Regions from separate parts of the Homo sapiens genome. Here region 1 is linked to region 2. Evidence: fine-mapped expression QTL. A gene starts in region 2. The other region holds a variant in brackets. All regions are shown on one strand. Distances are from middle to middle.

What was found. PIP is the estimated chance that this variant, and not a neighbour inherited with it, causes the effect. A credible set is the group of variants that fine-mapping cannot tell apart.
Region 1: its variant is the best candidate, but not a certain one, in a credible set for the expression of RNF214 in non-classical monocytes (Schmiedel 2018, PIP 0.53).

Annotation. Positions count from the first base shown.
Region 1 is chr11:117,304,379-117,309,749 of GRCh38, forward strand. The region is part of intron 1 of BACE1 (beta-secretase 1); the gene reads right to left. Among named protein-coding and RNA genes, the nearest start is that of BACE1, 9.2 kb to the right of the region's middle. The variant C/A (reference allele first, on the strand shown) is at 2,509.
Region 2 is chr11:117,230,310-117,235,680 of GRCh38, forward strand. RNF214 (ring finger protein 214) reads left to right here and starts at 2,362. Exons shown (of 15, transcript NM_207343.4): 1 at 2,362-2,417; 2 at 3,958-4,070. The coding sequence starts at 3,964. PCSK7 (proprotein convertase subtilisin/kexin type 7) reads right to left here and starts at 1,764. Exons shown (of 17, transcript NM_004716.4): 1 at 1,718-1,764; 2 at 40-159. RefSeq lists enhancers at 453-692, 1,562-1,611 and silencers at 1,802-1,951, 2,162-2,501.

The sequences.
Region 1 (5,371 bases), 74 kb after region 2:
CACACGGAATCCTGAAAAAATGATTCTTGTTTGGGCCACTAAATTTTGGAGTAGTCTGTTACCCAGCATCAGATAACTGACACAAACTATCTGAATTAAATCCTGGGGTCCTTGACCCTGAAGGCACCAACCATAGGTCAACCCCGTGAACATCTCTTGCCAGTTCCCTTTCCTCACCAGGCTTCTTGTGAAGTTTCCCGAAAGCACGATGATCTCTCACTTGTGCATCTTTGCATATATTTGTCTGCAGCATTCTTTCCCTGTTCTCATGTTCACATTACACTTTAAATATCCTTTCTTCAAAGGTCTTGTCCTGACGCCCAGATAAGATTAGGTTCTTCCTCTTGCAAATCCTCAGTAGCACCTGTGCTTCTTTGTCTACCACTCACACTTTTAATCATGTATTTAATGTCTGCCTGTCCCACAGACTATGAGCTCCACCAAGGGTAGGGAGCATTTGTATTGCTTATTACCTAATTGTTACCTAGCCCTGAGTAGATGCTCCGTAATGATTTTTTTTTTAATTGACAGCAACTGCCTCATTCCCTGCAGTTAATTCCTATGACCCTATGGACTCTTCCTATTCTTTTTTTTTTTTTTTTGAGGTGGGTTCTCACTCTGTCACCCAGGCTGTAGTGCAGTGGTGCAATCTTGGCTCCTGCCTCAGCCTCCCGAGTAGCTGGGATTACAGGCACCCGCCACTACGCCCAGCTAATTTTTGCATTTTTAGTACAGACGGGGTTTCACCATGTTGGTGAATATCCACCCAGGGTCCTGTGGTTCTTAGAGCAGTTATAGTGACTCCAGGCCTCCTTAGTCCCAGAACCTTGTGAGTCAGCTTCATCTGCTTTTCCTAAGTGATTTCCAGACCTGAGCTTACCCAAGGCTGAGAAAAGGGGGCAAGGAAGGACAAGAGGAGCCTAAAGTCAGCAGCGGGGAGGGGCTTATGGCCAACAGAGCACACAGCTCCTGTCTCAGAGTCCAGCGACTGGGTCCTGTCCAGGTTCCTCCCACCTTGAACAAATCAGCCAGCCCTGTGCAAATGGACTCCTTTTCCCAGCTAGTTCCTCTGCCTTCCACTTGCCTCTCCTGGCTGTAGCTGGCCATTGGTACCTGGGAGCAAGCAGGCTCCCTGGCGCCACTTACCCCACCTCTGGCTGGTTTTTCAAGGAGTCCCAATGTGGCTGGGTCGCCCCAAACCTTATCTAGTATACCTTTCCCCCTTTGGATGGGATGCCCCATTTCTCCGCAGCCTGTAACCCGGCTCAACTAATATTTGCCAGTGCCTCCTACTCCAATAGAATGATGGATGTCGATGGTCCAAGAGTTTATGACAGTAATTTTCAAACTTTTTTTTTTCTAAAGCAGCAGAATCAGCCGCGCGCAGTGGCTCACGCCTGTAATCCCAGCACTTTGGGAGGCCGAGGCGGACGGATCACAAAGTCAGGAGATCGAGACCATCCTGGCTAACACGGTGAAACCCCGTCTCCACTAAAAAATACAAAAAATTAGCCGGGCGTGATGGCAGGCGCCTGTAGTCCCAGCTACTTGGGAGGCTGAAGCAGGAGAATGGCGTGAACCCAGGAGGCGGAGCTTGCAGTGAGCCCAGATCGCACCACTGCACTCCAGCCTGGGCGACAGAGTGAGACTCCGTCTCAAAAATAAATAAATAAATAAAAATAAAAAATAAAGCAGCGGAATCCTTTTCCCCTTTTCCAATTGTATGCAGGATCCTAGTGTACAAGAGAGAAAAAGACAGAGGTGTTCTGTTTGAAGGGGAGGTTTGATTTCCTCTGCTTCCCTCCCCTGCCTGTGCTGGCTCTTGAGGCATCTCTTCAGCACCTTTAGCCTCTGCGGAACCCACCTGGAAAACCCATGCTCCACAAGGTATCACAGCAGCTATTCGCCACCTGTTTTTCATGGTCAGACAGTAAGTCCTTCCTGTTATTTAACCTTGTCCCACCCACAGGTTACAGTGGCTTGAATCTTCTCTTGCTCTGTCCTCAGTTGAAAATGAAGCTGACCATGGCACCTGTGTCACGCTCAGCACATGGGCTTGTTTATTCAAGCCATTGGGAGATGCTAGAACTCACTCCTTGTCCTACCTGTCAAAACCTCCACAGGCCTTGGAAAAGAGTAAGTGGTAGGGCCAGGCACAGTGACTCACGCCTGTAGTCCCAGCACTTTGGGAGGCTGAGGTGGGCGGATCACTTGAGGTCAAGGAGTTTGAGACCATTCTGGCCACATAGTGAAACCCCGTCTCTACCAAAATATATATATAAATTAGCCGGGTGTGGTTGTGCGTGCCCGTAGTCCTAGCTACTTGGCAGGCCGACGCTGGAGAATTGCTTGAACCCAGGAGGTGGAGGTTGCAGGGAGCCGAGATCGCGCCACCGCACTCCAGCCTGGGCAACAGAGTGAGACCCTGTCTCAAGAAAAAAAAAGAAAAAAGGCTAAGTGATGAGATTCACTGACCTTGAAAGACCAAGCAAGAGGACACCCAGCCTA[C/A]AGTGCGCAGCAGAGAGGGTGGCCCCAGAGTGACAGCAGCTCAGGAAATATGGTGACAGAGGATAAGTTGGCATGGGAGGAGGCAGAGCTTGGCCAGTTTGCTTTGAGGAAAAGGACCTAGGAGTCCCAGCTCCCCCACGTCAGAATCCCCCCAGTTCTGCTGATTTCCTCATTCTCCCCAGCACAGCCCAGCTCTCCTATTTTGGGAAACACCTGGCTATAGTACCCAAGGCTGCGGTACTAAGGATGTACTCAGGTGCTGTCGCATCCTGCCAGGAGAATCTCAGGGCAGCTCCAGAACTCAGAAAATGTTCTGGTTCCTTCCCAGAACTCTCCCCTGCCCAGGCACCTGAAAGAGAAGGCTCCCAGGAGAGACAGAAGTTAGTCATTAGGTATGGGGGCTTCCCTGGGAGGTGTTTCTCTTCCTGGATTTTCTTTTTTTGAGATGGAGTCTTCCCCCTGTCGCCCAGGCTGGAGTGCAGTGGCATGATGTTGGCTCACTGCAACCTCCGCCTCCTGGGTTCAAGCGATTCTCCTGCCTCAGCCTCCTGATTAGCTGGGATTACAGGCACGTGCCACCATGCCCAGCTAATTTTTGTATTTTTGGTAGAGACAGGGTTTCACCACGTTGGCCATGCTGGTCTTGAACTCCTGACCTCAGGTGATCTGCCTGCCTCGGCCTCCCAAAGTGCTGGGATTACAGGTGTGAGCCACTGTGCCTGGCCTCTTTCTGGATTTTCAACTGGAATTTTCTGCCCAGCCCTTTATTGGAGAGGCCCAAGAAGGGTTCCTGACCTTCCACCTTAGTGCTTTTAGAGAGAGCACAGTCTTTCTCAATGCCCCCTCACTCCCAGCTAAACTCTTCTTTACTGGTCTGGGGAGTAGAGGAGAGGTTTGGAATGACAGGATGAGTGCTCCAGCAAGGGCTTGTGTGCAACCCGAGGCCCAATCCAGGAAAGCCAGTTGTGGTGGCAGGGACTGGGTAGGCAACTTATGGAGCCGGGGTCTTGCTGGCTTTGTCTAATTTGGAGGGTGGTTCTTTGAGCTCGATGGTTTTCAACCTTTTTATTGCAAAAACTCTTTTTTAAAAAAATATAACCCAGAAGTCCACTGTATAAAAACAATAAAAGCAAAGTTATCCTGGGATGCTCAGGAGATTTGGGGCGGGGGGATGGGGATGGCTTGGTGACAGGAAGGGCGGGGATCTAGAGTGTTGACTGCTCCCAGCCTTCTCCCTCACCGCTGAGGTCCCTTTACAGAACCCTGCCAAGCAGGGAAGGAGAGGAAAAAAAGAAAAACCACCTGGTCCTTCTTGGTTTCTGAGACTCTGAGCCCTCATAGTTTTCTACTGCTCTGATCATTTTCTCTTGCTCCCTTGTCTATACCTAATATTCTTTTCCTAATCATTTTTCTCCTTTCCCTCTCTGTTCCCTCAAAGAACAAGTCTATTTTTTAACTTGGCCTCTCTGTGGATGAGTCCTGTCTGCCTGTCCAGTTCTAACTTCTCTCCAGATTCCCACTGTCAGCTGGTGGCTGAATACTTCCACGAGGATGACCCACTAGCATCTCAAAGGCATGTCCCAGATCGTAGAACACAGGAAGGAAAGGCCCCGGTATTTGAACCCCTACTCTGTTCTTCTTAACAGAATCACTTTGGACAAGACACTTAGTCTCTCTGGGTCTCAGTTTCCTTATCCCTGAAATAGATATGCTAATACCTATCCCTTATAATTAAAGCAGAATAATAAACATAAACTTTGGTAAACTATATTGTACTTCCTGGCTGGGTGCGGTGGCTCATACCTGTAATCCTAAGACTTTGGGAGGCTGAGGCGGGCGGTCACTTGAGGTCAGGAGTTTGAAACCAGCCTGGCCAACATGGTGAAACCCCCATCTCTACTAAAAATACCAAAAAAAATAGCTGGGGGTGGTGGCGGGCACCTGTAATCCCAGCTACTTGAGAAGCTGAGGCAGGAGAATCACTTGAACCAGGAGGTGGAGGTTGCAGTGAGCTGAGATCGCGCCACTGCACTCCAGCCTGGGTGACACAGCGAAACTCCATCTCAAAACAAACAAACAAACAAAAAAACTATATTGTGCTTCAAAAGCTTTCCCCTGTTGCTTTGTTCCCTGACAAAAAGTCAGAGAGGTTAAATAAAGCCATCATCTCCTCTTCCCTCTCTCTCACCCCATACATCTCATCAAGCGCAGAGAATAACTGGTTAAACGATGGATGAATGCTGATTCCTCCTTTCTACCCTCACTGCCACCATCCTCTTTCAGGCCCCCGTATCCTGAGATCCTTGTTTGCATGTCTAGAGTCATGATGCTAGACTCTCCAAGTTATTCTGCACACTGAAGCTGTTTTCCTGGAACTAAAATTAGACGATATCATCCCTCTTCTCGTATACCTACAAGGATTCCTTACTGTTTGCAGAATAAAACCCAAAGTCCTGTCAGCCCCATGGCATCCCCACCATGCCTTCTGGCTTCTCACCACAGTTCACGCTTTTCTTCATGAAGTGCTCCTCCTCACCACTCTCCATATTGCAAAGCTTTCTCCTCTTTCAAATACCTCCGTTTTGGCTGGGCGCGGTGGCTCACGCCTATAATCCCAGCACTTTGGGAGGCTGAGGCGGGTGGATCCCTGGGCGAGACTCCCTCTCAAAAACAAAAACAAAACAAAACCCTCCTTTTCCAGCAAGCTGTGCCTAATACCATGTCAGAAGTAGCTGCTTCTCTCTGTGCACTTCCAAGATCCACTGTTTCACTATTTGTACCAAATGCATTTGGTTTTGTGTAATATTTAGGTATTATGTCTATGTCTCACATCAGATTGTGAGCTGTCCAAGGGCTAAGACTA
Region 2 (5,371 bases):
CCTCAAGGCTAATTCCCCATAACAGGGCCCCGTGCCCACCTGGATTCTACATGAGGTTGAGCTCCTGGTCTGGCTAACCACGTCACACTCATGTTGTGCAAATGGAGAAAAGGCATCACTTTCACTGTGAGTAGTGTTGACTCAGCAAAGGCTACAGACCTGTGGGATCCAAGAACAGAAGAAATAATGTCCCACCAATCCCAGGGCAACAAGCTGAGGTTAGATAAACTCCAGGACCAGGGACCAAAGAAACTTCATTAATTGTCATTTCCAAAGATCTAAAATCGGTCATAGACTGGAGCAGAACTGGTACGGTGAGGCCAAATCAGTATAACACCCAAAAAACCCACTTCCTGTGCTATCGTGCCACCCTCTTTTCATTTTGTTCCCCAGAGGCCTAGCAAAAAACAGTTACCAAAATGCCTCTTGAAAGAGTAGGTAATAACGTCCTAGAAGTCCAGGTGGTAGCTAACTTCTTGATTTGTATATCCCAGAAGGATACCAGGGAAAGTGAAAGGAGGGAGGCGGCGGGGGCGAAACGGGGAAAGCCAGAGAGTGCAAACAAAACAGAACAGGCACCAAGGACAAGCGGGCAACCAGGAGAGAACGAATGATGAGAGAACCTCACTAAGCAGCTACTCCTGTACTGAGCTCAGGAGGCTGGCTTCAAGGTGAGGACTCAGACTCCAGACTGGGACTCCAATTGCCTGGGTTTGACAGAACCAGGGAATTGGTCTCAGGAGCCCTCAAAAAAAAAAAAAAAGAGCCAAGTTAGAACTGGGGGACAGACAAATGGGGTGGCAGGACATGTGTGTACCTATGGTGGCTGGGCTCCTTTAAAAGCCTTTGCTCTCCACTGGGTCCACCCTGGGGCAGGGCTTAGTACTCAGATACACACCCAAGCGGCTCTACCTCAAAGCATTCCAGAAAAATGGGAATTTTACTGAAAGGCTTCCTGGAAAGGAGAACTTATGCCACCTCTCCTTTACCTCTAAAAATCTTCATACTACATTTCTTCCTCTCGTTTTCTCTTAGGTTTCCAGGCATATTCCCTCTCAATCCCTCCCTGCCCCCGGGAGCCTCAATTCTCCCAAGATATTTAGGTGTCTTCCCCAGTCTGCATACTCTACTAAGTAAACAAACTAACAAACAAAACCCTTGTTAGCCAGACAGTGGCCCCGCTAGGCAGACTCCTTCAGACTCAGTAGATCCCACCACAGATGTCAGGAAGAAAGAGAAGCAGGAGCTCCTTCTGTCTACTAGTGGCAAAGCAGCATTTTTATCCCCCAGGCTTCTGGGAAAGGAACCTTAAATGCCTTCTGAAAGCAGGTCTCAACCTCTCCCAACGGCTAGGCCTCCCTTTACAGCTCTTAATTGACAAGGAAGAAGAGAATGGGCAGCCTGGAGTCCAAGATCCTGCTCCCAAGCTACTGTCCTCGCTGTTCCACACCCGGCTCCTAGAAGCCAGCTTGGGTACCGGGTCAGTTTCCCGATTCTCCCTCCGTCGGCCTCGATCGCTCCGTGCAATGTGCCCCTCTCCTCATTAGCACCCACATTATCCAGGAATTCTGGGCCCTGGGGCCCCATCTCCTTGGTCCCCCACGCCAGGACCTCAGGCACCCTCTGTGCAGCTCCCTCATCCTCAGACGCCGGCTTCCCCCACTTCTGGGGCCCCCTGACCACCCAGGTCCAGCCCCACACCTAGTTCCCAACTCACCGGCCCCGCCGCAGCTGCCGCCGCCTCCCTGCGGAAACTCGCGGCTTCCCGGGAGCCGGAGGAGCAGTGACAGCAGCATCACTTCCGCCCGCGGCGCAGCCAATCAGCGCGGCGCCTGCGGCCCGGCGACCCCCGCGGGCCACAGCAACCGGCGCCCGGGGTCCGGCTCCCGCGGGCGGCCTACGCAGGCAGGGGCCGTGCGGGCGCTGGGGGCTGAACCCGCGGGCTCCGCCTCCCCGAGTCCTCGGGGCATCTTCCACATGGTCCCTCTTCAGAAGGCTCTCCTTCATGGCGTCCTCTGTAAAGGGCATTTCGGTTCCGACCTTTAAAAGCCACTCGTTGCTCTTCTCCTTCTGACCGCCATGGCCCCGACTGTCCCTGTAATCTTCCCAGAGGGGATCCTGCCCACCCAGGTCGCCTTCCTTCTCGCAGTCGGCTCTCCCTTCTTCCCCGCGCCCCGGGAGAGTCCACTTGTATCTCAGGGGTCTCCCGCAGCATCCCCGTGCCCCGGCGGCGCCAGCTGTCGCCGCCAGAGGGCGCCGTCGGGGGCGGCGCGGCGCCACCGCGGCCTCTCCTCTCGCGGCCGGAGCCTCGCCCCCTCCGCTCGTGCCGCCGGAAGTGGGAGGTGCCGCGCGCGGGCCGGCGCTCGACCCCTCCCCCCGTGGCTCGGCCGCCCCCTCCCCCCGCTCCGCCCGCTCAGGTGCGTCCCGTCCCTCCCCCACTTTCCTCCCGGGGGCGCGGCGCGGGAGGTGTGTGCGGGGCGAGCGTGGGTGGGGGTTGCGGGGCGAGGGCCGGGCATGGGGGTCGGGTGGGGGGCGTGGAGGGTGCTGTGAGAACCGAGGCGGGGGTCCCGGCCTAGAAGTGGGACGGGGGGGTGGCTGGCAGCGGGGTGGGGGGACCGAGGGGAAGGGGTGGAGGGGGGTCTGGTCCGAGCCAGCGGCCAGCCTAGCAGTCCCCTGTGGGGGGTGGCCAAGGCCACCCAGCGCCGCTTCCCCCCATTGTCCCCTTCCCGTCTGTCCCCTGTTCTCGCCCGAGGACCCGTGGCTCCGGCGCCCCTGCTTCGCTGGTGGTCGCCCCGGGTTGCGGAGTTCTTTTTGGTACACTCGACCCTCCAGCCAGCTGTTCCTACCCGCGCCACGGGCTCTCTAGCCACGGAGTTGCATGCATGGCCCTTGTCCTGGGGTTTCGTTCACCGGGCGCAGAGGACCCCCCAGCCCTGGGCTATGTTGGAGACGGGATGTTTGCACCTGAGGGAGCAGCAATGGCGGTTTGGGCCCATTTTCTCCCAGGAGCTTTGTATAATGAGGGAAACTGAGGCACAGAGGGTCTGTGGGCTGTGACTGAGGTGTTGACACAGCCCCATCTACCTATCTGCCCTATGCGCTCTTCAGTGTTCCGGGGGGGAATACGTGTGATGCTGTTAAAATAAAAGCAAGAATGCAAACTAACCCGATGTTCATCCCCACCTCCCAAGTATTTTGATTTTCTTTTCTCCTCATAAGGTCATAAGTTTGCTCTGCGGCATAAAAGATGACCTTTTGATTTTTAAAAAAGGCGTCCGTCCCAGTTCCCTTACTTGTGTTACCATGTTTTTTACCTTGACTTTTTCACGCTAGAGAACCCAGGATTCTTTTTTGCACCACTAGTCACTCTGAAGAGTCTGTTCTTTGCTCAGTTAGTGGGTATCAGGCCTTTCCCATCTGTGGGGAGCACGCTGACAGTAAAATATGCACCCTGGATTGCCCAGTATTGCATTACTTGTTGACTTACAGGCAGACACCTCCAAAAACTTCCCTTAAATTAATGGAGAATGCTTTGAATGTAACAGCCATAAAGTGATTTAAAAACATGAGATCTGATTGATACTAGGCCGAAAAGTACGTCTTTTATTAAAAATGATAGCAGACAAGGTAGGCCTGGGACCACTTGGAAGATCCTGGCAGACTAAGATGTATTGTTTGAAATGACTACATTTCTGCCAAAAGTGAAAATAAGATCTTTGCACAGACTCCTAGATATTTATGTAAATACAGTGACTCCTGAGGATTGCTGCCCACTAGGACACTAGGACTTTGCATACAATGTCTCTTTTAGTACTCTTAAGTATTTTCTCCCGGAGCCCAGGTTTTTGTGTTTCTTTACTGCGACAGCTCTGTTGTGTGGACATTCTGAGGGGGGAGAGATACATTTGTTTTAAACTTTGGAAACTTGTAGCCTGTAATTTGTTTCTGAATGTACAGAGCATAATGGCAGCGTCTGAGGTTGCTGGTGTTGTGGCCAATGCCCCCAGTCCTCCGGAATCTTCTAGTTTATGTGCTTCCAAATCAGACGAAGGTCTCCCAGATGGTCTAAGGTAATGTGTGGACTCCTGACTGGGAAGATTCATTTGGGTAAAGGGTTTTTGAGATGGTCTTGTGTAGCTGGTCTTTCTTTTTGGCTCTGATGGCACTGCACTAGCTTTTTAAAGGTACAGGACTGTCTGATCTATCTTTGTATTTCTGGTATCCAACACAGCACCTGATACTCAGCAGGCATGCTAAATGTTTGGGGAATAAATAGAATAGAATACATGGGGTCAAACTCATTAAAAAATGCAAACATTTTCCAGCCCTTTCCTACGTGGACTGTATGTTCATTTAACCATATGTTTATATGTTATATATGAGAAATGTTATATCAGTATGTGTACATGGATATCTAAATATGTATACATACAGATACACAATTACCCAAACTTATATCTCATAGTAGCTAATATGATACATTGTTATGTACAGTGTTGAACTAAATTAGCTATATAGTCATCCCACAGTATATGCTGGAGATTGGTTCCAGGACCCCTACTGAGGATACCAAAATCTATAAATGCTCAAGTCCCTTACATAAAATGGTGTAGTATTTTATCTGGGATAGGCATATGCCCACCCTACTTAAAGCTATTAAAAAGATAAAAAATAAATAAAGTGGTGTAGTATTTGCATATAACCTATGCATGTCCTCCCATATACTTTAAACAATAGGTTATTTACAACAACTAATACAATGTAAATGTTATGTAAATAGTTGTGTTGTTTAAGGAATAATGACAGGTAAAAAAGTTTGTACATGTTCAGTACAGATGCAACCATCCAATTTTTTTCTGAAAATTTTTTTAATGGTTTCAAATCTATTTCACTTTTCTTTTTTTGAGATGGAGTCTCACTCTGTTGGCCCAGGCTGGAGTGCAGTGGCGCGATCTCGGCTCACTGCAAGCTCTGCCTCCCGGGTTTATGCCGTTCTCCTGCCTCAGCCTCCCCAGTAGCTGGGACTACAGGCGCCCGCCACTACGCCCGGCTAATTTTTTGTATTTTTAGTAGAAACGGGGTTTCACTGTGTTAGCCAGGATGGTCTCGATCTCCTGACCTCGTGATCCGCCTGCCTCGGCCTCCCAAAGTGCTGGGATTACAGGCGTGAGTCACCACGCCCAGCCTTTTTTTTTTTTTTTTTTTTTGAGATGGAGTCTCGCTCTGTCGCCCAGACTGGAGTGCAATGGCGTGAACCCAGCTCACTGCAACCTCCGTCTCCTGGGTTCAAACGTCTCCTGGATTCCCTTACCTCAGCCTCCCAAGTAGCTAGGATTACAGCCGCCCAGCACCACGCCTGGCTAATTTTTGT